Regions from separate parts of the Homo sapiens genome. Here regions 2, 3, 4, 5 and 6 are each reported to be linked to region 1. The links are microRNA targets in miRTarBase. Many come from high-throughput screens and were not tested one by one. Region 1 holds a microRNA gene; each other region holds the end of a gene's coding sequence.

What was found. Region 1 holds the annotated microRNA hsa-miR-548l (AAAAGUAUUUGCGGGUUUUGUC, at 1,701-1,722, shown strand). A microRNA usually pairs through its seed, bases 2 to 8, with sites in the 3' UTR of a target mRNA and lowers its output. Matches are read on the target gene's strand: a 7mer-m8 pairs with bases 2 to 8, a 7mer-A1 pairs with bases 2 to 7 and ends in A, and an 8mer does both.
Region 2: miRTarBase lists SRSF10 as a target of hsa-miR-548l. Seed matches in the 3' UTR shown: 7mer-A1 at 989-995 and 7mer-m8 at 887-893.
Region 3: the mRNA of SPC25 is a reported target of hsa-miR-548l. Seed matches in the 3' UTR shown: 8mer at 2,619-2,626.
Region 4: the mRNA of MRPS5 is a reported target of hsa-miR-548l. Seed matches in the 3' UTR shown: 7mer-A1 at 1,819-1,825 and 7mer-A1 at 2,558-2,564.
Region 5: miRTarBase lists MIEF2 as a target of hsa-miR-548l. Seed matches in the 3' UTR shown: 7mer-A1 at 2,234-2,240.
Region 6: the mRNA of SH3BGRL is a reported target of hsa-miR-548l. Seed matches in the 3' UTR shown: 7mer-A1 at 2,625-2,631.

The regions. Positions count from the first base shown.
Region 1 is chr11:94,465,267-94,468,266 of GRCh38, reverse strand. It overlaps MIR548L (microRNA 548l), which reads left to right and starts at 1,687; the gene lies at 1,687-1,772. It overlaps MRE11 (MRE11 double strand break repair nuclease), which reads left to right. Exons shown (of 20, transcript NM_005591.4): 10 at 374-454.
Region 2 is chr1:23,967,612-23,972,723 of GRCh38, forward strand. It overlaps SRSF10 (serine and arginine rich splicing factor 10), which reads right to left. Exons shown (of 6, transcript NM_054016.4): 4 at 4,239-4,401; 5 at 3,962-4,015; 6 at 1-3,828. The coding sequence ends at 3,531. Among named protein-coding and RNA genes, the nearest start is that of SRSF10, 10 kb to the right of the region's middle.
Region 3 is chr2:168,868,726-168,871,725 of GRCh38, forward strand. It overlaps SPC25 (SPC25 component of NDC80 kinetochore complex), which reads right to left. Exons shown (of 7, transcript NM_020675.4): 7 at 2,166-2,830. The coding sequence ends at 2,706. Among named protein-coding and RNA genes, the nearest start is that of SPC25, 20 kb to the right of the region's middle.
Region 4 is chr2:95,083,849-95,088,960 of GRCh38, reverse strand. It overlaps MRPS5 (mitochondrial ribosomal protein S5), which reads left to right. Exons shown (of 12, transcript NM_031902.5): 12 at 1,380-3,592. The coding sequence ends at 1,604. Among named protein-coding and RNA genes, the nearest start is that of MRPS5, 35 kb to the left of the region's middle. RefSeq lists an enhancer at 943-1,508.
Region 5 is chr17:18,263,033-18,268,144 of GRCh38, reverse strand. MIEF2 (mitochondrial elongation factor 2) reads right to left here. Exons shown (of 4, transcript NM_139162.4): 3 at 4,897-5,059; 4 at 1,593-4,435. The coding sequence ends at 3,381. Among named protein-coding and RNA genes, the nearest start is that of MIEF2, 4.9 kb to the right of the region's middle. RefSeq lists an enhancer at 249-842.
Region 6 is chrX:81,295,775-81,300,886 of GRCh38, forward strand. It overlaps SH3BGRL (SH3 domain binding glutamate rich protein like), which reads left to right. Exons shown (of 4, transcript NM_003022.3): 4 at 1,421-2,773. The coding sequence ends at 1,453. Among named protein-coding and RNA genes, the nearest start is that of SH3BGRL, 96 kb to the left of the region's middle.

The sequences.
Region 1 (3,000 bases):
TTGCTTATTGATCCCTAAATCTTCTGGTGAGTCTCCCATGGATCATATGACTGCAAAAACTAGACTTACTTGGTTTTAAGTTGGTAAGCTGAGGAAAGCCTTATTGAAACATGAGTAGTAATATTTTAAGTTTTATTCTAAAAGAATTATTTTAGAGATTGAAAAATTATGAAGAACTTTCATGAAAGGAAAACATTAAGGAATAGTATTAAAGGAGCATTACAAGAAGGTATATTTGAAAAGGTGTCATAAATGACCTAGGAAATAAAGATGATTATGTAGTTCAGGAAAATTCCTGTGGTAATAAGCTGCTATTCAGCCAAGTTAAACTCAGTTTACTACGTTGTTTTTTAATCTTTTTAAAAATTTTGAGATTGAAGAAATGCTTGAAAATGCTGAACGGGAACGTCTGGGTAATTCTCACCAGCCAGAGAAGCCTCTTGTACGACTGCGAGTAAGTCCTATTTATATAGATTGAATATTATTAATTTTCAAAGCATAGTAATGTACAGTTTACATGGTTTCTTTGAAAAGTAGTGAGGAGAGTGCTCATAGTAATAAGAAGAGCAATCACCATCGGAGGCAAAAACAAAGATATAAGGATTTGAGTTAATCACAGTTTAAGTGATAGGTTTGGTAACTTATTTTTCTCATTTTCTAAATAATTTGTTGTTATATTTAATAGATTGGCTGAGCTCTCTGGCTTCATCTTTAACTACCTCCTCTACTCACTTCATTCCAGGCATCTTGGCCTTCTCGCAGTTTCTTGGGCATGTGGGATGTGCTCTTATCTCCCTTTAGTCTGCTCCCGTGTCACCTCACTGCAGCCCTATCATCAAGATTGCAGCCCCTACCTTCTCTCCAGTGCCCTGATTTCACTTACCTTCTTCTGCTTCCTCTTTTCTTCTTATTTTTTTCCCCGTAACACATCCTTCTAATCTATGTACGGTTTATTTGTTTTGGTTATTATTAGGATTGTTTCCTGTGCCTATAAATCTGCTTATCCTTTCTATCGTGTTATAAACAAAGAAACAACAACAGACTTCTTCTTTACCACTATGCTTTTCCCTTTTCCAAACTCCTACCCCATGTTGCTTACTCTCTTTAAAAGCCCCTAAAAGTATATAACCTATATCTCTCTTAACTTTCTCTTCTTCAGTTCACTATAACCAAGGCTCTGACTTCACCATAACCAGTGGAAAAGATGACCTTTAATTGTTCAATCCAATAGATCGTGTCTCATCTTGCTGAATTACTCTTGGGCATTCTCTGAGTTATTTGTATCCGTCCCGTCTCATAGTTAGCCCTCTTTTCAGTGTAGGCATACAGCTTTAATGACCACCAATAGAGTGATGACTTCAAAATCTTTACGTAGACCTCCTTCTTGTTCTGTATCTCCAGGAGTCCCCTGAGGCCTGGTACTGAGGAGTGTAGTCTTTAAACCAGCAGTGTTGTTGTTGCCTGGGAAATTGTTAAAAATGCAGAGCCTCAGACCCTGCATCAGAACCCACTGTATTTTAACAAAAATCTCCAAGAAATGTATATGTTCATGAAAATTTGAGAAGTACTGGGATGTAGACTGTGGAGGTAAAGAGTACAGTGTAGAGCCAGACTTCCTGAGCTTCATTCTGGCCCAACCACTAGTTGTATGACCTTGAGCAACCGCATCCCTTATCCCTTGGTTTGTATTAGGTTGGTGCAAAAGTATTTGCGGGTTTTGTCGTAGAAAGTAATGGCAAAAACTGCAGTTACTTGTGCACCAACCAAATGCTTCGTAGATTTATGAGATCTAAATGGATTAAATAGTGTCTGTTGCACAGTAGGTAATCTGTTCCCGTTTCTTTATCCCACTGTCGCTGGCATAGTGAAGCCCTTATTAATACTTCCTGGCCTATTGCTGCAGCCTCCTACCAGGACTCTGCCTCCAGTTTCCTTCTCTCTCCACACTAATGCCAAAATGATCTTTGTAAAACACAGTTTTGCATGTCTTTTCTGCTAAAAATAACTTAATTATTCCCCAGCACTAACAGGAAAAAGTCTAAACTTTTTTAGGTTAGCATTCAGGGGTCTACATGATGTGGTCTAAACCAAAAAAGCTGCCGTCCCCTGGGTGCAGTGGAGTTTATTTCACTGGAACCTTTGTCCATGTTGATCCTGTTGCGTGGGACATACTTCTCTCCTCCTTTCTCTATACCTTCTTCAGCACCCACCTAAAGCCTCTGTCTTCAAAGAAGCCTTTCTTGACCTGCCCACAGAGAACATGCTTCTTCCTTTGTGTCCTCATCCAACTTTGTACATACCTCTTATAGCACCACTCACAGTCTGCTTCCAGTGATCTGTTTACATGTTTTTCTTCCCAGTCAGTTTGTGAATTTCTTGACAGCCAAGATTGTATTTATTTATGGTTGTATCCCTGGCCCTGAACAGCATACTTAGAACATTGAGGACATCCAATAAAATTTGTTATGACCAAACATTTATAAATGAGAAGTTTGAAGGAGAGACCTAATAGCTTTAGCATTTAGTATTTTGTCTTTTATAACATGGTAGCTGTAGAGATGATCTGGGTAAGGCTGGGCATGGTGGCTCACGCCTGTAATCCCAGCACTTTGGGAGGCCGAAGTGGCTGAATCATCTGACGTCAGGAGTTCGAGACCAGCCTGGGCAACATGGCAAAACCCTGTCTCTACTAAAAATAAAAAAATTAGCCAGGTATGGTGGTGCATGCCTGTAATCCCAACTACTTGGGAGGCTGAAGCGTGAGAATCGCTTGAACCCGGGAGGCAGAGGTTGCAGTGAGCTGAGATTGTGCCTCTGCATTCCAGCCTGGGTGACAGTGAGACGCCATCTCAAAAAAAAAAAAAAAAAAAAGAGAGAGAGAGAGATGGTCTGGGTAATACAAAAATAATTACTTTAAGGGAATCACATAGTTCTCTTCATTATGGCAAAAGATCCCAATTTTCTCATCTGTGTCTGCCTCACAGCATTAAAACTAACCAG
Region 2 (5,112 bases), not on the chromosome of region 1:
CACCCACCCTTTGGTCGCTTGAACTGCCCTTCTTTGGTTCTTTTTCCGCTTTCAGATCTTTCTTGAAGTGTAGTAAGCAGAACTGTACTGGGTATTCCAGCTGCAGTTTGGTCTTAAATAAAAGAAGGATGTTTGTCAGTTTGGTTTCCTTTATTCTTCTCTGTGGTATACAGGATTTTGTTAGTTGAACTGGATGTAGCAGCTTACTGGGCCAAATTTTCAAGAGAATAATACAATAGTTCCCAGGTCTTTCCCCTGGGATGTAACTTAACAGCTCATACTCTATGTAGCACCTTTCCTCTCTCACTGAAGCATTATCTCTCATTTTTCTTCTTGCTTACTTGGCTTCAAAAAAAAAAAAAAAATGCAGAGAGATCTTAAGTAAAAGGAGAGGTGAAGTGTGTCAGCCCTCATTTGAGTGTTGATATAACCATTCTATTTATCATTGAGCCCAGTCATACACAGTAGGTAAACTCAGTAAGTGGGGGACTCAACTACATCACCCAAAACTAACATAAAACACTACGTAAAGATCCTCATCAAGTATCAGTAGGATCCAAACTACCATGGGTTCAACTGTAATATAGTCCTTTTGAAGCTGTTAGGTGTGTCGCTTTAGGAACAACATATAAGATTCTCAATAGTCCAAGTCTAAAAATAAGTTGACACAAGTAAAAATAAAAATGAAATTAGGCCTTCTAGTTCTATACAGAAAATGAACAATTTCAATGAGCTATCTCCTCAATCTACTTCTCTCAAATTATAGTCTGTAAAACAAACAAAACCCCCCCAAAACTAAGGGACCAGGCCTGGGCTTAAATCCTGGCTCTGCCTTACAGTCTTTTCTTTGTGCCTCAGTTTCCTTATCTGTGATATGGGGAAAATAAAAGTATCTTTCTCATAAGGTTTTGTGAAGAGTGAGTTAACACATAGCCTTTTCAAGTGTCTGGCACATCATGAATACTTAATAAATTAGCTATAATTGTCATAAAGTAGATAGAATTCAAACCACAAAATACCTAACCTACTTCCCCAAAGAGGTTATCACTTAATATTAGTTGCTCATCAACATTCAATTTAAAATGATTTAAAATCATGTCATAAACGTTAAGCCCTAATGCGTCTTGTTTATAAGAGGGAGAGCAGAATTACTGATCCATCCAATAATGAAAATATAAACTTGGAATTAGCTGATCCAAATTTCATCTTAACACTACCAAATAACCTCTTAAGTTAGTTAACCCAAGAGGCTTAATGAGCAATCATGAAACAACTTTGATATTACACAATGAATTTTTAACTACTGTGTAAAAGATGTACCTTTCTGGCAAGTTCTATCATTTCCAAAGTAAAAGTTAGTTGTGCCTAGTGCAACAATGATTTAAAATATTCCTAAATCTATAAAGGACTGTTTCCATTGTTATTTTAGAATCATATTCAATACTGTAATAATTCCAGTTAATCATTATTTCCTTCATTTTGTTTTTATTATAGCATGTTTGCTTAATTTACAGCAAGCAGAAAATAAGCTGGGTCTTGTTTTGATCCAAACATTGATGTTTTAAAGGTTGTACACAATATTTGTTAAAAAGAACATATAAAAATACCTTTTTAGAAGCCTCTATAAGAAAGAAAATACAAAGTTTAACCCCACAACTTTCCTCTTTGCTAGAACTGTAAACTACTGCTACAGTTTTAAATAGACTTTTTGTTGTTTAAACTATACATCCAGGAAAATCTAAAAAAATTAAAGAAACGTGCATATAAACGATTGCATAGCAGAACATGAACATTAACTGCAAACAGTAAAGAAATGAAAGTTAGAAATACTATCAAATATACAAAGGTTCTAGAATCAATCCTTTAAACACATTCCACAAACAGTATTTAAAATCCATCGTTGTATTCTTTACAGGCAAAGCCTAGATTACTAAAACCGAAATTGAAAAAAGTAATCCTCTAAAAGGAATCGTTTGTCCATAATTCGTACTTGTATCTGTAAGCAAGCAATCTGAGATTTTTAAAGATGCTAGCTTTTTATTCTGAAATGAAATTGGACATGTCAAGTCACTTTTGTCCCCAAAACGATCTTTCAGAGAAATACTAGAAATTATAAATGGTTTAAGGGTATTACTTCATTTTTAGTCAGGTACTACACTGATAATCGAAAGCTCAAAAGATGTGACTCTTGCTTAAAACTGACTAATCCTTTTCCCCAAATTACCTTAAATTTCATGGCACCACAGAATCACCTAGAATGAGTGTTGTCTTACAACTTGCCTCGTATTAAATAAACTGAGGTGTGAAAAGCAGGCCTCCCTCATAAAGAGGCAGGCAAATTTTGATACAAATGCACGAGCCAAGTGCTGTAAGCATCAAAATTTCAGTTCTTTTACACTAGGCACACACACACAAAACCTACTTTGAAACAATTTACTTACTTAACAGCAGTAAGAAAACTAAGCAATATTATGGTCAACAACGCTCCTTAAACTTTAGAATAACTACATAAGAATATTCCTTTTTCCTTAAAATTATTTTTGCCATCAACGACCTGCTCAAATTTTAAGGTGAGTTTTTGTGTTTTCTATGTTCCAAATCTTCATAGGAACCAGAAAAAAAGCAGTGAAGGCTCCATGTTTCAGTCAAAAACTCAATTTCCCAGCTGGCATCATTCCCCAAGACAGTGGGGTTAACAAAAGAACTAATCCACACTGCATCAAAAATAATTATCATTGGCCTAGACATCCGGTTTTTTTTTTTTTTTGAGACGGAGTCTCACTCTGTTGCCCAGGCTGGAGTGCAGTGGCGTGATTTTGGCTCACTGCAACTTCTACCTCCCAGGTTCAAGCGATTCTCTTGCCTCAGCCTCCTGAGTAGCTGAGATTACAGGCATGTGCCACCATGCCCGGATAATTTTTGTATTTTTAGTAGAGACGGGGTTTCACCGTGTTGGTCAGGCTGGTCTCGAACTCCTGACCTCGTGATCCGCCCGCCTCGGCCTCCCAAAGTGCTGGGATTACAGGTGTGAGCCACCACGCCCAGCCGGGCCTAGACATCTTGACAAGACATAAAGGTCCACCCTGAACCTAAATGTGTCTGAGCAGTCAGTGTTGTACTGTGGCTACTACTTCACTTTTGTATCATTCTATCTTATTAGCAAGCTACATTTCTAGGTTAACAGTTCTACCAAATATGAATATGAAAGTTTATTTTTAATGAGACAATGTTGCAAATTATGGTCAACCAACATCTTTTCACCAAATACTTCAAGCATAAAAAATGAGAATCTTTACAAAAATATACAGAGACACCACAAATTGGTAGCTGCCCATAACATTAAACAAACTGGACTCTTAAGAGTGGCTTCTCAACAGCATATCATTTTAATTATAACCATTGCCTGGTACAGGGAAAACTAACAAGTGTTTTTTAAGCATCATTGCAACATTGTATTCCTGATAATTTAAGTAAACCAAACTATGAGTAAATGAATGATACATGCCTAAAAATGACCATGGTTTATACTATCAGTGGCCACTGGACTTAGGACTAGTCCAAGACCTTGATCTAGATTTTGACCTAGACCTAGACTGTGATCTTGACTGAGATTTGGATCTAGGTGGTTCTTTTTTCCTTGATTCCTTTTCATATCTTGAGCCAGACTTATAATGTGTTTTGGAATCTGTTTTAGAGGTGCCTCTAGTTTTGGTGTGAGATGCAGACCTAGAACGTGATTTAGCCTTCATTTCTTTCTTGGGCTGGGACTTGGACCGTGATCTTGAATTGGATTTAGATCTTGAAAAAGATCGATTTCGGTGTTTGAATCTTTCAAAACAGAGGAGAGATATAATTAGAGTAAAAATTAGATTCTATATTAATCAAATTTGTTATTTTTAGAGCAAAAGTTCACTCTGAAATTAAAAAATACATGAGTCTTTTTCAAAGCAAAGTTATTTACCTATCATTGTCGGAATGGCTTCTGCTACGCCGTGGTCTTCCAGTCGGTCTACTGCTAAAAAGCATATCAGAAAAAGCAGTGACAAATATCTATTCATAGAGGCAAAGTTTCTAATTAAAAGCAAACCATAAAACTTTTAAAATAAAATGCTACAGTATTTTTTGTCTCAATGAAACATTCAATGTATATAATTAAAAGTATACAAAATAGTAAAAAAAAATTAAATGCTAACAAATACATTTTTTAAACAGATCACTGTGCTACACAGCACACTTACTTTCTAGGACTATACGATCTTCTATAGTTGTAATCAAAAGACCGACTTCTTGATCTCCTCCTTTCATAACTTCGGCTTCTAGAACGTCTGTATCTGTCATAATCATCATAGCGTGAAGAACTGTACACATTCCTCCCTTCCTTGGCTTTCATCTGATTTGGTGCTAGGAAATACAAAGAACAGAAATATTTAAAAATATTAAAAACAGTATTAAAGCCCTCAATAAATAGGGAAAAAAATCCCTGCATCCCCTCTTATATCCCAAAGAGAGTATGTATGACCCGGGTGGTGGCTCACACCTGTGATCCCACTACTTTGGGAGGTTGAGGTGGGAGGATCACTTGAGCCCAGGAGTTTGAGACCAGCCTGGGGCAACATAGCAATATGCCATTTCTACAAAAAATAATTAGCTGGGCCTAGTGGCTTGCACATGTATTCCAGCTACCCAGGAGGCTAAGGGGGGAAATCACTTGAGCTCATGAGTTGGTGGCTGCAGTAAATTGTGATCACACCACCGCACGCCAGCCTGGGGGTCAGAGACCCTGTCTCCAAAAAAAAAAAGTGTGTATGTGTTTTGGTGTCTTTTTTTTTTAATTATTTTAATTTTTGAGACCAGGGTCTTGCTCTGTTACCCAGGCTGGAATGCAGTGGCGCAATCTCAACTCACTGCAACCTCCACCCCACACCAGTTGAAGCCATTCTCCTGCCTCAGCCTCCTGAGGAGCTGAGATTACAGGCACGCGCCACCACACCCGGCTAATTTTTGTATTTTAGTAGAGACAGGGTTTCACCATATTGGCCAGGCTGGTCTCGAATTCCTGACCTCAAATAATCCACCCGCCTCGGCCTCCCGAAGTGCTAGGATTACAGGTGT
Region 3 (3,000 bases), not on the chromosome of region 1:
CCAAAAAAAGTCCAGGACCAGATGGATTCACAGCTGAATTCTACCAGAGGTACAAGGAGGAGCTGGTACCATTCCTTCTGAAACTATTCCAGTCAATAGAAAAAGAGGGAATCCTCCCTAACTCATTCTATGAGGCCAGCATCATCCTGATACCAAAGCCTGGCAGAGACACAACAAAAAAAGAGAATTTTAGACCAATATCCTTGATGAACATTGATGCAAAAATCCTCAATAAAATACTGGCAAACTGAATCCAGCAGCACATCAAAAAGCTTATCCACCATGATCAAGTGGGTTTCATCCCTGGGATGCAAGGCTGGTTCAACATACGAAAATCAATAAACGTAATCCAGCATATAAACAGAACCAAAGACAAAAACCACATAATTATCTCAATAGATGCGGAAAAGGCCTTTGACAAAATTCAACAACCCTTCATGCTAAAAACTCTCAATAAATTAGGTATTGATGGGATGTATCTCAAAATAATAAGAGCTATCTATGACAAACCCACAGCCAATATCATATGGAATGGACAAAAACTGGAAGCATTCCCTTTGAAAACCGGCACAAGACAGGGATGCCCTCTCCTACCACTCCTATTCAACATAGTGTTGGAAGTTCTGGCCAGGGCAATCAGGCAGAAGAAGGAAATAAAGGGCATTCAATTAGGAAAAGAGGAACTCAAATTGTCCCTGTTTGCAGATGACATGATTGTATATCTAGAAAACCCCATCGTCTCAGCCCAAAATCTCCTTAAGCTGATAAGCAACTTCAGCAAACTCTCAGGATGCAAAATCAATGTGCAAAAATCACAAGCATTTTTATACACCAATAACAGACAAACAGAGAGCCAAATCATGAGTGAACTCCCATTCACAATTGCTTCAAAGAGAATAAAATACCTAGGAATCCAACTTACAAGGGATGTGAAGGACCTCTTCAAGGAGAACTACAACCACTGCTCAGTGAAATAAAAGAGGACACAAAGAAATGGAAGAACATTCCATGCTCCTGGGTAGGAAGAATCAATATCATGAAAATGGCCATGTTGCCCAAGGTAATTTATAGATTCAATGCCATCCCCATCAAGCTACCAATGACTTTCTTCACAGAATTGGAAAAAACTACTTTAAAGTTCATATGGAACCAAAAAAGAGCCCGCATTGCCAAGTCAATCCTAAGCCAAAAGAACAAAGCCAGAGGCATCACGCTACCTGACTTCAAACTATCCTACAAGGCTACAGTAACCAAAACAGCATGGTACTGGTACCAAAACAGAGATATAGACCAATGGAACAGAACAGAGCCCTCAGAAATAATCCCACATATCTACAACCATCTGATCTTTGACAAACCTGACAAAAACAAGCAATGGGGAAAGGATTCCCTATTTAATAAATGGTGCTGGGAAAACTGGCTAGCCATATGTAGAAAGCTGAAACTGGATCCCTTCCTTACACCTTATACAAAAATTAATTCAAGATGGATTAAAGACTTACATGTTAGACCTAAAACCATAAAAACCCTAGAAGAAAACCTAGGCAATACCATTCAGGACATAGGCATGGGCAAGGATTTCATGTCTAAAACACCAAAAGCAATGTCAACAAAAGCCGAAATTGACAAATGGGATCTAATTAAACTAAAGAGCTTCTGCACAGCAAAAGAAACCACCATCAGAGTGAACAGGCAACCTACAGAATGGGAGAAAATTTTTGCAACCTACTCATCTGACAAAGGGCTAATATCCAGAATCTACAATGAACTCAAACAAATTTACAAGAAAAAAACAAACAACCCCATCAAAAAGTGGGCGAAGGATATGAACAGACACTTGTCAAAAGAAGACATTTATGCAGCCAAAATCACATGAAAAAATGCTCATCATCACTGGCCATCAGAGAAATGCAAATCAAAACCACAATGAGATACCATCTCACACCAGTTAGAATGGCAATCATTAAAAAGTCAGAAAACAACAGGTGCTGGAGAGGATGTGGAGAAATAGGAACACTTTTACACTGTTGGTGGGACTGTAAACTAGTTCAACCATTGTGGAAGTTGGTGTGGCGATTCCTCAGGGACCTAGAACTAGAAATACCATTTGACCCAGCCCTCCCATTATTGGGTATATACCCAAGGGATTATAAATCATGCTGCTATAAAGACACATGCACACGTATGTTTATTTCGGCACTATTCACAATAGCAAAGACTTGGAACCAACCCAAATGTCCAACAATGATAGACTGGATTAAGAAAATGTGGCACATATACACCATGGAATACTATGCAGCCATAAAAAAGGATGAGTTCATGTCCTTTGTAGGAACATGGATGAAGCTGGAAACCATCATTCTCAGCAAACTATCGAAAGGACAAAAAACCAAACACCACATATTCTCACTCCTAGGTGGGAATTGAACAATGAGAACACATGGACACAGGAAGGGGAACATCACACAACGGGGACTGTTGTGGGTTGGGGGAGGGGGGAGGGATAGCATTAGGAGATATACCTAATGAAATGACGAGTTAATGGGTGCAGCACACCAATATGGCACATGTATACATATGTAACAAACCTGCACATTGTGCACATGTACCCTAAAACTTAAAGTATAATAATAATAAAAACAAGAAAAAAAGAGATATGTAATAGAGAAGAAAAATAAACCGTTTTTATATACACTATTTGTATGTTAATTATAAACCGTGGCAGTAAAAGCTTTCCGAACATTGGCAAGAAAAGCTGAAAAATTGTTGGTCTTCCTTACATTCTCTTGAAATTCTGCTAGGCCCTCAAGATGAGGGGCACTATCTGACACTAGAAAAAAAAAAAAAAGAAATCAAAGACAATTAGAATGAGTTTTTTTATGGCACAGAAGTATTTCTAATCTAGATGCTCTCATCTGGTTTGAATGTCAATTCCATCTTAATGAAATTCTTTGAGCAAAAAAGGATACACTTGATTTTCCTATGCCAAATATCTTTTGG
Region 4 (5,112 bases), not on the chromosome of region 1:
TGAGTAGCTGGGACTACAGGCACGTGCCACCATGCCCGGCTAATTTTTGTATTTTTAATAGAGATGGGGTTTCACCATGTTGGTCAGGCTGGTCTTGAACTCCTGACCTCGTGATCCACCCGCCTTGGCCTCCCAAAGTGCTGGGATTACAGGCGTGAGCCACCGCGCCCAGCCTAGACTTGTTCTTTTATGTGATATCTTTGTTTTCTTTTAGTCTTTTAAACCTTCTGATATAGTTACCATATGTCATCTCTCCTAAAATGCCATCAGCTATAAAAGGTTGCATTATTTAATATGTCACTCAAAAAGGAAAAGATGCCACCACTTTAGGTGATATGCCTTTGATTGAAAGATACACCAATATAAATTATTTTGTTTATGAAATGGCTCATCTGTTTTCTAATTTCACACATACTGCAGGGCATTAGATATATAATTAGAATAGTGCAAGGCAGCCATAAGGCCTGGGATCACGGGATTGACATAGCAGGTATGTCATTGTACCATGAATAACGTCTACTGAACTAATCTGCCTGCTTCCAGATCTCTGTGGCTTCCCTCTGCAGTGAATCCCCATGGCCCTGTTACCCAGCTCATGACCAGTCTTGCTTCTTAGTACACCCCCAGTTATTTTGAACCAAATCTCAGACATTTTATTTCAACCCTAAATATTTTAGTATGTATCTTCGAAAAGATGAGGATTTTAAAAAATACCCTGTAATACTATTATCATACCTAAAAAGTTAACAGTAACTTGTATCATCAAATATCCAATCAATGTTCATACAAATGAGCAAATTCCATTTGTTAGATTAAAAAAAATTTTTTTTTTTTTTACACAATGTGTTTGAATCAGGTTGCAGAACAGGTTAATGTATGTTTTTGCTATGCCTTTTAAATAGGTTCCCCTCCTCTTCCCCCACCCCCGCCCCGCTTATGATTTTTTGTTGAGGAAACCAGGTTGTTTGTTTTGTAGTGCTTCCTGGCCTGTTGCTGACTAAAATACCTGTAGGGTCCTTAGTGTCTTATCTCCCCTATATTTACTGTAAATTGGTAGTTAGATCTAGGGGGTTGGTGAGATTCAAGTTCAGTGTTTGGCACAGCATGGTGCATAATCAGGAGGGTTTAGAAGGCAAGAGACCAGAGGCCAAGGCCCTTCCTCTATCCAAGTTTGGGGTGGGCAGATGCAGCAGATGAGGCTGAAATGACTCCACCCATGACAGGTTATTAGAGTTTAGCCACAAAACACATTAACCCAAATCCACTGAAATGGCCTTTGAATACCCCCAGGCTGTACTGTTGTGGCCTGTGGAAGTTCCTGCTCTTTATGTTGCAAATGTACTTCAGACCTAACCTGTTCTGAATTTGGTCTTGCTTAGGAAACCCATCAACAGCTGGCTGATAAGAAGGGCCTCCATGTTGTGGAAATCCGGGAGGAATGTGGCCCTCTGCCCATTGTGGTTGCGTCCCCCCGGGGGCCCTTGAGGAAGGATCCAGAGCCAGAAGATGAGGTTCCAGACGTCAAACTGGACTGGGAAGATGTGAAGACTGCACAGGGAATGAAGCGCTCTGTGTGGTCTAATTTGAAGAGAGCCGCCACGTAACCTCTCTGGCCTTGTGCAGCCAGTTCCTGTGCTGCCCTGCACCTAGGAGAGACTCAGCCCCTCACAGCTTGGGATGTTACCTTGCCTTTTGTTTGTTTTGAGGGAAGTTTAATCTTTAAACTCTTTGGAAATAAATAATTATAGCTTTCATTTGTTGAGCACATGTTATATGCCAATGTGATAGAACCTTTACATACATATCTCAGTTCAAGACTACTTTAAATATTCATCCAAAGTAACAAAAGTAAATGAATTAGGGAGACGGGGTTAATAATTTGACCCAATCAGTAATAATGTACACAATGATAATTGCTGTAGTAATTATAGCTAATATATATGAACTCATTCATCCAAAGTGAATGTGATTAACTTCATTTTACAGAGCAGTTAAGTAACTTGACTACCGTGAGGAACTTCCAAACCGTTTTCCACAGTGGAAATGGAAGTTGTAGGCTACTATTGGGAATGTTAAATGGTATATTAATTGTATACCATTGCAATTTTGACTTGTATTTCCCTGATGGCTGATGATGTTGAACATCTTTTCATGTGCTGATTGGCCATTTGTATATGTTTTTTGGAGAAATGTCTATTCAGAGCCTTTGCCCATTTAAAAAGTTATTTTTTATTATTATTGAGTTCCTTATAGTTTCTAGATATAAGCCCCCCTATCATACATGCTTTACAGAAGTTTTTACCCATTCTGTGGAATATATATATTTTTATTTCTTTGCATACTCTTTCTGCCCCACCCACATCCTCTTTCTGGGACACTGATGACCAAAATGTTGAATCTTTTACTATTGTCCCGTGAGTCCCTGAGGCGCTGTTTATTTTTTTTCCAGTCTGTTTTCTCTGTGTTGCTCAGTTTAGGTAATTTCTATTGTTTTATCTTCAGAATAACTGGTTATTTACTCTTTCCTTTCCATTCTGCTCTTGAACCATCCATGCAGTACTTTAACTTTGACTGTCATTGTATATTTCAGTTAAAATTTCCATTTGGTTTATTTTTTATGTCTTCTCTTTATTTGCTGAGGCTATTTGCTGAGACTTTTTTTTTCTTTAAATGGCTTCAAGAGTGTTTATAATTGCTCACTGAAGCATTTTTATGGTGGCTGCTTTAAAATCTTTGTCATCAGGTAGGTGTGGTGGCTCACGCCTATAACCCCAGCACTTTGTGAAGGTGAGGCAGGAGGATTGCTTCAGCCCAGGAGTTTGAGATCAGCCTAGGCAACAAAGTGAGACCTCATCTCTACAAAAAGTAAAAGTAAATTTAAAAGTTAGACACACATGGTGGTGTATGCCTGTAGTCCCAGCTACATAGGAGGCTGAAGTGGGAGGATCATTTGATTGCAGGAGGTTGAGGCTGCAGTGAGCCTTGTTCATGCCACTCCAGCCTGGGTGGCAGAGTGAGACCTTGTCTCCAAAAAAAAAAAAAAAATTGTCATAAAGTTTCAACATCTGTGTCATCTTAGTGTTGACATCCCTTGAGGTTTTTTCTCATTCAAGTTTACAATGTCCTAGTTCTTGTTATGATGAGTGACTTTGGCTGTATCCTGGTCATCTTCACTGTTATGAAGCTCTGGGAGTTATTTAAATCTCTCAGCATGCTTCCTCTGACGGTGCTGGTATGGGATGGGGCACTGCCTCGTTACTGCCTGGTGAGGATGGAGATCCAGGTTTCCTCCTGTCGCTGTCCTCGGGACCTCTGCTGAGGCCTTTCTGCTGGAAGTAGGAGGAGCACCCTAATGGCACCGTGGGATAGGGAGCAGGCCATGTTAGGCTGGATGGTGAAAGTTTTCAGCCTGTGACGTTGTCTGGTGTGGGTGGGTCCCCTTTTTTTGTGTGTGGTATTTTGCTAGAGTAAGGTAGTTATTTCCTAAAACTTATCTGTCCTGTTAGTTTTCCTTCTTAAGTACCTAACAAATATAAAGACAATGAACTTTAAGCAATAAAAGACAATGATCCTTTGGAGAGGGGAAACAAAATTATCTGTACTTACTATCTGCGGAGAGTCCGTGGTTCTAGGAAGGGTTACCCCATCAGGACCTGGCGGTCTCCTGGAGTTGAGGTGCAGTTGGGCAGTCGAAATGACTAGAGTTCACAGGGGAGAATGCCTTGGAGGAGAGAGTTGCACAGCAGGAGAACTAAGATCTGCAGAGAGTTTCCATCAGATATTTAGTTACACACTAATAGTGCATGCCGGTGAGGAAACTCACCCAAAAGAATTAGAGGGAACAGTGTTTGGAGTGGAAAATAGTGCCTGTTATCAACAGTCACAGTGGAAAACCTTGTAATCTAGGTGGCATTGGAAGAGAACTAAGATGCCCTAGTAGTAGAAAAATTAACTCTACATAAAAACTACCCCTGGTCCCAACTCAGAAAGCTTAAAAACAAGACCAAACTGGAACACAACTGTTTCAAAGTAACTTAATTGTGTTCCAGAACAAAGCTCAAGAATATAGGAATACAAAAAATATACCCAATAAAGTAAAATATACAATACTTGGCATCTAATAAATCACTAGGCAGCCAGGCGCGGTGGCTCACGCCTGTAATCCCAGCACTTTGGGAGGCCCGAGGCAGGCGGATCACCTGAGGTCAGGAGTTTGAGACCAGCTTGACCCACATGGAGAAACCCCATCTCTACTAAAAATACAAAAAAATTAGCCAGGCGTGGTGACACATGCCTGTAATCCCAGCTACTTGGGAGGCTGAGGCAGGAGAATCGCTTGAACCAGGGAGGTGGAGGTTGTGGTGAGCCAAGAACATGCCATTGCACTCCAGCCTGGGCAACAAGAGCGAAACTCCATCTCAAAAAAAACAAAAACAAAAACAAAAATACTAGGCATGCAAAGAAGCATGAACATAAGCTCATAATGAAGTGAAAAATTAGTCCATCAAAACTGACCCAGGAATGGCACAATGACAATCAGTAGACAAGGACATTAAAGCAGGTATTATGACTGTATTCCATATGTTCAGAAAGCTAGAGAGAAAAACATGGAAGATACAAAACACCAAGTTGAACCTCTAGAGATGAAAACTGCAATATCTGATGAAAAACGCTGAATGGGATTAACAGCAGATTGGACATCTCAGAAAAAGATATGAAAGAATTGGAAGACAGCAACTTAAACAGGAAAAAGACTGAAGAAGGTAGGAGAAATTGGGCATTAGAGAACTATGGGACAACTTTGGGAGCCAAATACGTGTATAATTGGAGTCCGTGGAGAAGGGAGGTATAAAAAACAATTTGAAGAAATGGCCGGGCGCAGTGGCTCACGCCTGTAATCCCAGCACTTTGGGAGGCTGAGGCGGGTGGATCACGAGGTCAGCAGTTCGAGACCAGCCTGGCCAACATGGTGAAACCCTGTCTCTACTAAAAATACAAAAATTAGCCAGGCATGGTGGCAGGCGCCTGTAACCCCAGCTACTCCAGAGGCTGAGGCAGGAGAATCACTTGAACCCAGGAGGCGGAAGTTGCACTGAGCCGAGACCGCGCCAT
Region 5 (5,112 bases), not on the chromosome of region 1:
GCTCTGACCAGGGGCTGGAGTGGCATCTGGGAGCACCTTGCTGTGCTGGGGCTTGGATGTGGCTGGAGGGTGGGGCACAGCTAGGCCCACCAGTCCTCGTTCCCAGGCATTATGTTAAGCACTGCCCACCCCAGTTAATCGTCACAAGCACCTGGGGTTGGGTATTACATGACCCTCCCCAGTTAAGAGATGAGAAGACTGAGGCACAGGCTCTGCCCCAGACTGTTCCCTTGCTGCCCCAACACCGCCAAGGAAACTGCTCAAAGCTCTCCAGCATCAAGGCATCAAGTGATTGGAATGGACCTCAGCCAAGTGATTGGAATGGACCTCAGCCAAGTGTCTCCCACCTTGGACCCTTATAATATCCTCTACAAGGAGCCCTCGTGCCCGCCTCTTGCCCTACACCCAACACCTAGAGGCCTACACCACTATTCCATTTGCTTGGCACAGTCCTGCTTCCCTTGGGTCCTGCAGTCACAGCTGGAAGGGGTAGGGGAGTCCCCTCAGGACGTAAGTCGGGGAAGGACCAGCAGGGTGCGAGTGGCACAGCTAGGCTGGAAGCAGCCCTGCACGCAGACCAGAGCCCTCCCCAGCCCACATGTGTCATCTGGTGATAGGAAGTGAGCCCTGGCTTTGGCTCTTGCGGGTGAGAGGGTTAAGATGCCCTGGCCTCTCACCTGCACAAGGCGGGGCAAGTTTCCTCCCCACTTGTGCAGCCACAAAGAGGTGCAAGGGAGGTAGAGAACACACATTTCTGGCCGGGTGCGGTGGCCCATGCCTGTAATCCCAGCACTTTGGGAGGCCAAGGCAGGCAGATCACAAGGTCAAGAGATCAAGACCATCCTGGCCAACATGGTGAAAATCCATCTCTACTAAAAATACAAAAATTAGCCGAGCGTGGTAGCGCGCACTTGTAGTCCCAGCTACTCGGGAGGCTGAGGCAGAAGAATTGCTTTAACCCGGGAGGCAGAGGTTGCAGTGAGCCGAGATCGCACCACTGCACTCCAGCCTGGGCGACAGAGTGATACTCACTCTCAAAAGAAAAAAAACACAGGTTTCTAAAAAATGATGAGCATGGCTGAAGGGCTGTCAACAGCCCACTAATTACAGAAAGTATGGTGCAGGGCTCAGCAGTTCAGCCTTGCGGGAAGAAACATCCCAAACTGGCTGGTTCCCATTACTAAAGCAACACCAAGCTTTTCATCTTTTCCTTCCACTTACCTTACTTGTCACGGACAGAAAGTCTGTGTCCCCTTCAACTTGTATGCTGAAATCCTAACCCCCAAGGCACTGCTAACAGGAGATGGGGTCTTTGGGAAGTGATTCGATCATGAATGTGGGCCCCCACCCCATGGGTGGGCTTAGTTTCCTTATAAGAGACCCTAGGAGAGCATTTCCCCCCTTCCTCCACATGAGGACAGCTAGATGGGGACACCTATGAACCAGGATGTGGGCTCTCAACCAAACATGGAATCTGTGACTCACTCTTGGATTTCTAGCCTCCAAAATGGTAAGACATAAATTTCTGATGTTTATAAGCCACCTAGTCTATGGCATTTTGTTATCACAGCCCAAACAGACTGAGATGCTAATTTATTATTACTATTATTATTTTATTTTATTTTATTTTGAGACAGAGTTTCACTCTTGTTGCCTAGGCTGGAGTGCACTGGCACGATCTCAGCTCACCACAACCTCCGCCTCCCGGGTTCAAGCAATTCTCCTGCCTCAGCCTCCCAAGTAGCTGGGATTACAGGCATGTGCCACCATGCCCAGCTAATTTTTTTGAATTTTTACCAGAGATGGAGTTTCTCCACGTTGGTCAGCCTGGTCTTGAATTCCCAACCTCAGGTGATCTACCGGCCTCGGCTTCCCAAAGTGCTGGGATTATAGGCGTGAGCCACAGCGCGGGGCCAAGATGCTTATTTATTTATTTTTTTGAGACAGAGTCTTGCTCTGTCGCCAGTCTGGAGTGCAGTGGTGCAATTTCAGCTCATTGCAACCTCTACCTCCCGGGTTCAAGCAATTCTCCTGCCTCGGCCTCCCGAGTAGCTGGGACTATAGGTGCGTGCCACCACGCCCAGCTAATTTTTGTCTTTTTAGTAGAGTTGGGGTTTCATCATGTTGGTCAGGATGGTCTCGATCTCTTGACCTCGTGATCCGCCCGCCTCGGCCTCCCGATGTGCTGGGATTACAGATGCGAGCCACCACACCCGGCCAAGATGCTACTTTTTAAAGTAAACTCTACCACCTCCAATTGACCTCAAGCACTCTTGCCAAAGTGCCAGGACAAGCCACAGGACTTACAGAAAACCCTCAACAGCTGCGTATGAAAGCACCAAGACTCCCTTATCCAGCCTGAGTTATATATACATTAGAATTTTTTCCTTTTATTCTTGTTCACATCTTCGAAGCTGAGCTTCGTTTCAAAAGGAAGGATACCAGAGGCAGGAGGAGGGTCACTTGGGAGGGGAGGTGGAATCTCCCTCCTCTAGCCCCCTTGCTACCTCTTAACAGGCTTCAAAGTCAGAATACAGCCATCAGCTGAGAGCAGTTCATTTTGGCACACTGGGAGGCCGGCTGTGCACACCGGACCTCTCTAGTGGGGGATCAGGTCCTCTGCTCTCCAGTGGGGCCTGGAACAGCTCCAGTGAGATGCCCCAGCTGTGGGCTGGGGGTGCAGCACAGAGCCTCAGCTCCCCCAGGACCCTCAGCTGCCTGAAGAAAACACTCACCTGGCTGGAGGGAAAAAGGGCCTTGCCCTGAGGTATCAGGTGGGTGGCAAGTCATACTGAGCTCCCGCTCAGCAAGAAAACTAAACGCACAGAAGACAGCAGGAAAATGCCATCCTTTAACAGCCAAAAATCTGTCCTTCAGGGGCACCAGGTGACTCCAGCCCCTGGGGGACAGAACAAACACACCATACCTACCATCAGGCACCAGACGCCTCAAAACGCCTGGAGCTAGGGCCGGAAAAGGCGTTAAGTCACCTTCTCTCAGCAGAAATGTGAAGCTGGCCTTCAGCTTCTGCCCAGGATGGCAGAAACCACATTCTGTTGGTGGATTGGTTGCTGGTGATGGACAGAGCCAAAGGTCCTGGGGTTGGCCCCAAGAGCTGAAACGGTGCTTGCAGGAATGGCTGGCACTCCAAGCTGCCTGAGGCAGCCCAGCTGCACTCAGGTGACAGTGACCCAAGCTCTCTGGGCTCAGGGTTTATGGCCACCATAGCCCAAGCACATCCTGATGCCCTGGGTTTAAGTAATGTACCCTCCTTTGTTCTGGCAAAAAGCTAGAGAAAAACCACTATTCAAATCCCTGGAAGGGAGGTGGGTGCAGCTCCCCAGCATTAGAAAACATGGCAACCACCCGTTTCCACCCACCTAGAGCAGCCCCTCGGGCTCCTGTAGGCCACTGTATAGCGCATAGCCAATGTCGTCAATCTCCTCCTCACGCAAGCTGCTGAAGAGGTTCACGCTGGGGTTGAAGTGGCAGGGCAGGCTGGCCTGCTCCAGGCTGCCGATGAGCAGCTCCAGGGCTTGCAGGAAGCGCTCACCCAAGGCCTCCTCCGTCCAATCCACGTTGTCCTCCCCCAGACGCAGGACCACCTGGGTCAGGTGACCCCGGCCTAGCTGCCCCAGAGCCGAGCAACCACGGCAGACAGCACACAGCAGCAGCAGCAGCCGCCGGCGAGTCCCAGCGTCATGGTCGTCCAGGGCTCGCAGCCTAGCAGCCTCCACTGGATACAGGTCCTGCAGCCAGAGGTTCCCCGCCAGCCCCTCCAGGGGCCAGGCCAAGAGGAGGCGGTCGTCAGCATCGACCCCAGGGACTGCCACAAGCACAGCCACAGTGAGCTCCAGGCGTTCGTGCTGCACCTCGAGCAGCAGCTCCTCCGAGGCCATGCTGGGCCGGATCAGGCACCCGAGAAGGCTGCCAATGGCCGGCCAGTTGACAGAAGCAGCCAGCGCCTTGCGGAGTAGCTCCAGCAGGACGCGGGAGGAGAGGTAGCCCCCGACCAGGAAGCGGTCCCAGGGGCTGCTCCCACGGGGGCAGAACTCAAGCTGCGTCCTGCGCACGGCCCAGCAGCGAGGGTCCCTCGCCACAGTGTCCACGCCCGGCACCAGGCTCCACAGGCCCGGCTCCAGCACCAGTGGCACCAGGAGACGCACATGGTCCGCAGCCCCCGCCTGCAGCCCGTCGTAGAGCGGCCCCCCAGGCACGAATGCCCCAAAGGGCAGTTCCGGGAACTTGCTCCGAAAGTAGGCCTGCAGCTCCAGGGCGATGTCGCCAGCCAGCTGTTTGGCCAAAGCCACCTGGGCTGCTGGGATGGTCACACGGTCCCGCTCGAAGGCCAGCAGCCTCTCCTGCAGTGTCAGACACAGCGGTGCTGGGGAGCTGAGCTGTGGTGTCACCTCAGGATCAGTTTCTGCAGGCCCTTCTGCAGAGTGAAGGGGCGGGGAACATGTCGGAACAGCCTGTGATTAGTTAAGAAAACGCCACCGAGAACTAGCTGTGTGATGTCCCAGGGCCTCACTTTTCTCACCTGCAGTGGCACCTGAGAAGGCACTCAGTTCAGATCCTCACATATAGTGAGCTCTTGGTGACGAGTTCTCATTGCCCCAGAGTCCAACACCCTGGCGACAACAGCTTCATGCAGAGTAGGTAGGTATGTCACGCCCCTCTGGACCTCAGTTTCCCCATCTAAAGCTCCCCACCATCACAACGCTACCACCTTGCTCCAGGAACAGGGCAAAGAAACACCACCCCCATTAAATATCTGAGGAGCCCACAACCGAGAGAGAAGCAGGGACTCGCGCAGGGTCACACAGTCAGTCAGGGCAAAGCCTGGGCTGCGTCTCTTGAATGTGACACCAAAAGAGGGGAAGGAGTGCCACTCACCTGGGGCAGACGACGAGGGGGCCAAGGGCAACACTGGCTGGCTAAGGGCAGCAGGTGGAGGCCGGGGCTGCAGGTGTGGTGTGGCCTTGAGCAGGCTCAGTTCCTTCCAGCTGTCTGCCTTGGTGTCATCCTCATCCCGCGGGCTAGTGGCCCTGTCAATGAACTGCAAGCACAGTCACACAGATCAGTGTATATGAAATCTGGGCAGTCATAGCA
Region 6 (5,112 bases), not on the chromosome of region 1:
ACCTCAGTATGGACCTTATTGTCCATGTCACTATCAGCATTTCGGTCATAACAATTTAACAAGTCTCTAGGAAGCTCCAAACTTTCCATCATCTTTCTGCCTTCTTCTGAGCCCTCCAAATTGTACCAACCTTTCCTCCAAAGTTGGTTCCACATTTTCAGGTATCTTTATAGTAATACCCCACCCCTGGTACCAATTTTATGTATTAGTTCATTCTTACACTGCTATAAAGAACTTTTTGAGATTGGACAATATATAAAGAAGAAAGAGGTTTAATTGACCCACACCTCCAAAGACTGTACAGGAGCCATGGCTGAGGAGGCCTCAGGAAACTTACAATCATGGCAAAGGGTGAAGGGGAAGGAAGCACGTCCTCGCCTGGTGGCAGGAGAGAGAGGGAGAGGTGCTACACACTTTTAGACAAGCAGCAGTAGGAGGATGGTGCTAAGCCATTAGAAACTGCCCTCATGATCAAATATCCTCCCAGCAGGCTGCTCCTCCAACACTGGGAATTGCAATTTGACATGGGATTTCGGTGGGGACACAGAGCCAAACCATATCAATGAGTCAGTAGTATATTTCGTTATTTTTTTAAAGGATATGAAGAATGAATTTTGGTGTCATTTAATATTTTCTTCTTTCCTCTACTTTTGCCTTTTTTGGGTAAAAATCTAGTGTCTCTTTTAGCTTTTCTCCCTTCTTTTGCATGTAATACTGGGACTCATTTGGACAGTATCAGTCCTCCTGAGACTGTCAAGTATTGATTTAGTGACAGGTGTTTAGAATGATGTTGTCTACCACGCTTGATTTCTACAACTTAAGTCTGATGTTTCCTTTTCTGGAGTCAATCTTGCCACTCATCTTTAGTTCAACAAACTTTCCTTGAAGTTTATTTTGTGTCAAGTAGGTCAGAGTTCCTATGCTAGAGGTGAGTACCTCACTATCCAGAGGAGAAGGAAGACAACCTGATTTTTTGGTGTGTATTCTATCATAAAACATGAAAACTACAATATTTTAATGGATAGCACATTTTCTAAGTAATTTAAACCTTAATTAACCAAAACCCAACTAATTTTAAACTTAAGTAACCATGTTTTTATATTCTCAATTTTCATGAAAAAAAATCACACAAAAAGGAAACTGACTATTTTTAAGTAAAATATCAATTATAATTGTATATCACTTGCTTTCATGAAAGTATTCCAAATCATTAGGAATGATTAGGTAGTCTTTTTGTGTATCTGTTTCTAGAAATCTGTTTGTATTATATAGTTTTTCTATTAAGAACTTTTTAAGAAATCTCTTCTGGGGGCTTTTGTTTATTCTTAGTAGTTGGAACTAATGTAGTCTGACTAAAATACACATGGGTGTCTGCTCTGTGATGTTTAAACTTATCTGTTTTGTTTGTTTTTCATTTCAGGAAGCAGAAGTGCAAGCAAAGCAGCAAGCATGAACCTTAAGCACTGTGCTTTAAGCATCCTGAAAAATGAGTCTCCATTGCTTTTATAAAATAGCAGAATTAGCTTTGCTTCAAAAGAAATAGGCTTAATGTTGAAATAATAGATTAGTTGGGTTTTCACATGCAAACATTCAAAATGAATACAAAATTAAAATTTGAACATTATGGTGATTATGGTGAGGAGAATGGGATATTAACATAAAATTATATTAATAAGTAGATATCGTAGAAATAGTGTTGTTACCTGCCAAGCCATCCTGTATACACCAATGATTTTACAAAGAAAACACCCTTCCCTCCTTCTGCCATTACTATGGCAACTTAAGTGTATCTGCAGCTCTACATTAAAAAGGAGAAAGAGAAATAACCTGTCTCTCATTCCTAAGTTGCCTCATTAATTTTCATGAACAAGAATATGTACCTTTTTGATGCTATATTACTGCGATTAAAAAGTTCTTGCAGGTAATGTTTATGATATGTTAAACGTTGTAATTTCCTATCGTAATTATAACATTCCCATTCTTTTGTAGATGAAACTTCTACATATTGAACCACAGATTTTCTGAGCTTCTAAATGTAGCCTTTCATTGCACATTTCAGTGATCAGAATAGATATCCTTTTACACGCACAAAAGCAATAGATTCATTCAGTGGACAAGTTCCTTGTTTAACTACACAGCTATGATGGAATGATATATCCAAGTTCCTTGCCTCAGTGAAATATGCATATGTATATCATGAAAGTGGGATGCCAAGTAAGCTTAAAATGGCATTCTCTAGCAAAGAGATTAGACTTTTAAATAACTCTTATAAAACAGGTTGGCGATCATTTCCCAAGATTGGTTTCCCTTGAGTTTTTGCTAAAACAAATCTTAGTAGTTTTGCCCGTTTAAAACAACTCACAATCGTAAATGCTACTATTCCTAAGATATCTTACCTTTTTATTTCAGTTTAGCCATGTATTGTATGAGTGTATTAGTCTAAGCAGTGAGAATCTTTTCTATGCCTCTATTCCAGCAAAAAGTAGAAGTATCAAATAAAAAGGGCAACTTTTAAAATATTAAGCCTGAAGACTTCTAAAAAGACAAGAAACATGGCCTAAATAACCAACATAGATTTACATAGTAAGTTTCACACTACCTTATTACCAAAAGCAAACACCTCTTACTTTAAACTACATTATCATGTATATCTATTGTATGCTGGTCTTTACTTTTTGCCAAAATCAACATATAATGAAGAGATGCCTTTGTTTCATGAGATTCAAACTTGATGCTATGCTTTAAAATAAACTCAGTACTTTTAGAAACATAACTTATGTGTTCTTGGAGTTTATATAATAGTAATTTTAGATGAGTAATATCTTTTTTTAGAGGGTTGGGAATGCAAAAAGAGAAAATAGTAGAAAGAAAAAGCTTTGAATGCAATTCAAGGTTTTCGTTTTCTATGTTTTCTTTTTAGGGCTTTTAATCTCACAATACACATGAGGTCAAATGAACAATTTTATTGGGTTTACAAAAATACGGCATAAAGAACTCTAGAGAAAACAGGGTGCTTTGTAATACACTGGAAACGCAAAAAAAGTTTTTTAGTCAATATTTTCTCCTAAGCTTTATTAAATGTTGCTGATGATACTTGCAATATTTTATGTGGTCATTTTCACTTTTATTTTAATGTCAAATAAGTTAACACTGCCAAAATGGGCATTCTTTAAAAATAGATGTATTTTTTGCCATGTTTATATAACTTAAAATTAACATAGTATATTAAAGTAAAAGGTTGAATTGAGTCTTCCTAAACTGAAATATTTTATTTTGTCAGCTGAGAAATATGTTTTGTAGATACAAAAATGCAAGTGAAATTCTGAATATGAAGGTGAGTTTTATTTAAAAAAATCTCCAAAATATTTGGCCGGAAAATATAATCTTTGCCACTTGTTATATTACATTCAGATTGTTTCTGTTTGTAAATCAGACTTGTTTATTTGTTATGTTCAGTTATTGAGCTGGTTTGTTCTTGGGAATATTTGACTCTCAGGAAGATTTTCATTTTCACCAAACAATGCAAATTGGACGTCGATTGCATTGTTAAATGTCAACATTTCTTTGGGAGTCTGAGTGTAGGGGTAAACAGAATTTTAAAACAGAAGTTGTTAATTACTTGCTTGGGAAAGTTTAAATACAGAAAATGTTGGTGAAGTCAGATTTCATTGCACATATTCCATTCATTCAGCAAAAGGAAAAATGAGGATTCACATGGATTTTATTACCCAGTTGTGGATGCTGAAAAATATTGAAAGGTTGACATTGGTCTAATCTTTTTAATGTAAAATACATATTTCTTTTCTTTTGAAGAATTCCAACAAAACTGATTAAGAAACATGCACATTTGATTAATTTGAACCTTCTAGTCTTCTGCTTCCACCCATCATTCTTCCCCTGTATCTATTATCACCTTCCTTTATTTAGCAAACAAAATTTTGAAATCCTTTGTAAAGAGTACTATAATGTTACCATAATTCCTATTTTCACACAATTGTCTTTTTAACATCTTTACTGAGATATACAATTCACATACTGTAAACTTTGCTCATTTAAAGTGTATAAGGCAGTGACTTTTACTATATTCACAGAATCATGCAACCATCACTAAGATTTAAGTTTAGAATGTTTCATCACCCAACAAATAAACTCTACCCAATAGCAGTCACTCCCCATCCCCCACTCCCTCAGCACTATGCAAACACCAACTTACTTTCTGTCTCTGTGGATTTACCTATTCTAGACATTTTATATAACTAAAGTCATACAATATGTGGTCTTTTGTGGTTTGTGTCTTCTAGTTACCACATTTTTGAGTTTCATCCATGTTGTAGCATGCATTAGTACTTCACATGTTTTATTGAATAACATTCCATTGTATGGATAAAAGCACATTATGTTTGCCCATTAATCAGTTGATGGACATTTGGGTGGTTTCCACTTTTTGGCTGTTACGCATAATGCTGCTATGAACATCGGTGTACAAATTTTTTGTTGGAATACCTGTTTTTGTGTCTTGGATATATATGTAGAAGAGTTACATGATTGTTCTGTATTTAACAATTTGAGGAACGTGAGACTTTTCCAAGTTGGCTTCACTATTTTACATTCCCACCAACAATGTATGAGTATTGTTCTGATTTTCCCAATTTCTGGCCAGTGCTTGTTGTTATTTACACTTTTGATTACAGCCATTCTGATGGCTATAAAGTGGTTCCTCATTGTAGTTGTGATTTACATTTCTCTGATGGCTAAATATGTTGAGCATCTTTTTATGTGATTATAGCCATTTATATATCTTCTTTGGAGAAATGTCTTTTCAGATCCTGTGTCCATCTTTAAATTGGGTTATTTGTATTTTTATTGCTCAATTTTAACATTTCCTTATATATTCTGATTACAAGTCTGTTATTATATATGTGGTTTGAAAATGTTTTACCATTATATGGGTCGTCTTATTTTCTTGAGGGTATGCTTTGAAGTATGTAAGTTTTAAATTTTGGCAAATTCATCTTTTTTTTTGTTATTGCTTATATTTTGTTTTTGCTAAGGAAACATTGCCTAATCCAAGGTCATAAAGATTTACTTTTCTGTTTTCATTTAATAGTTTTA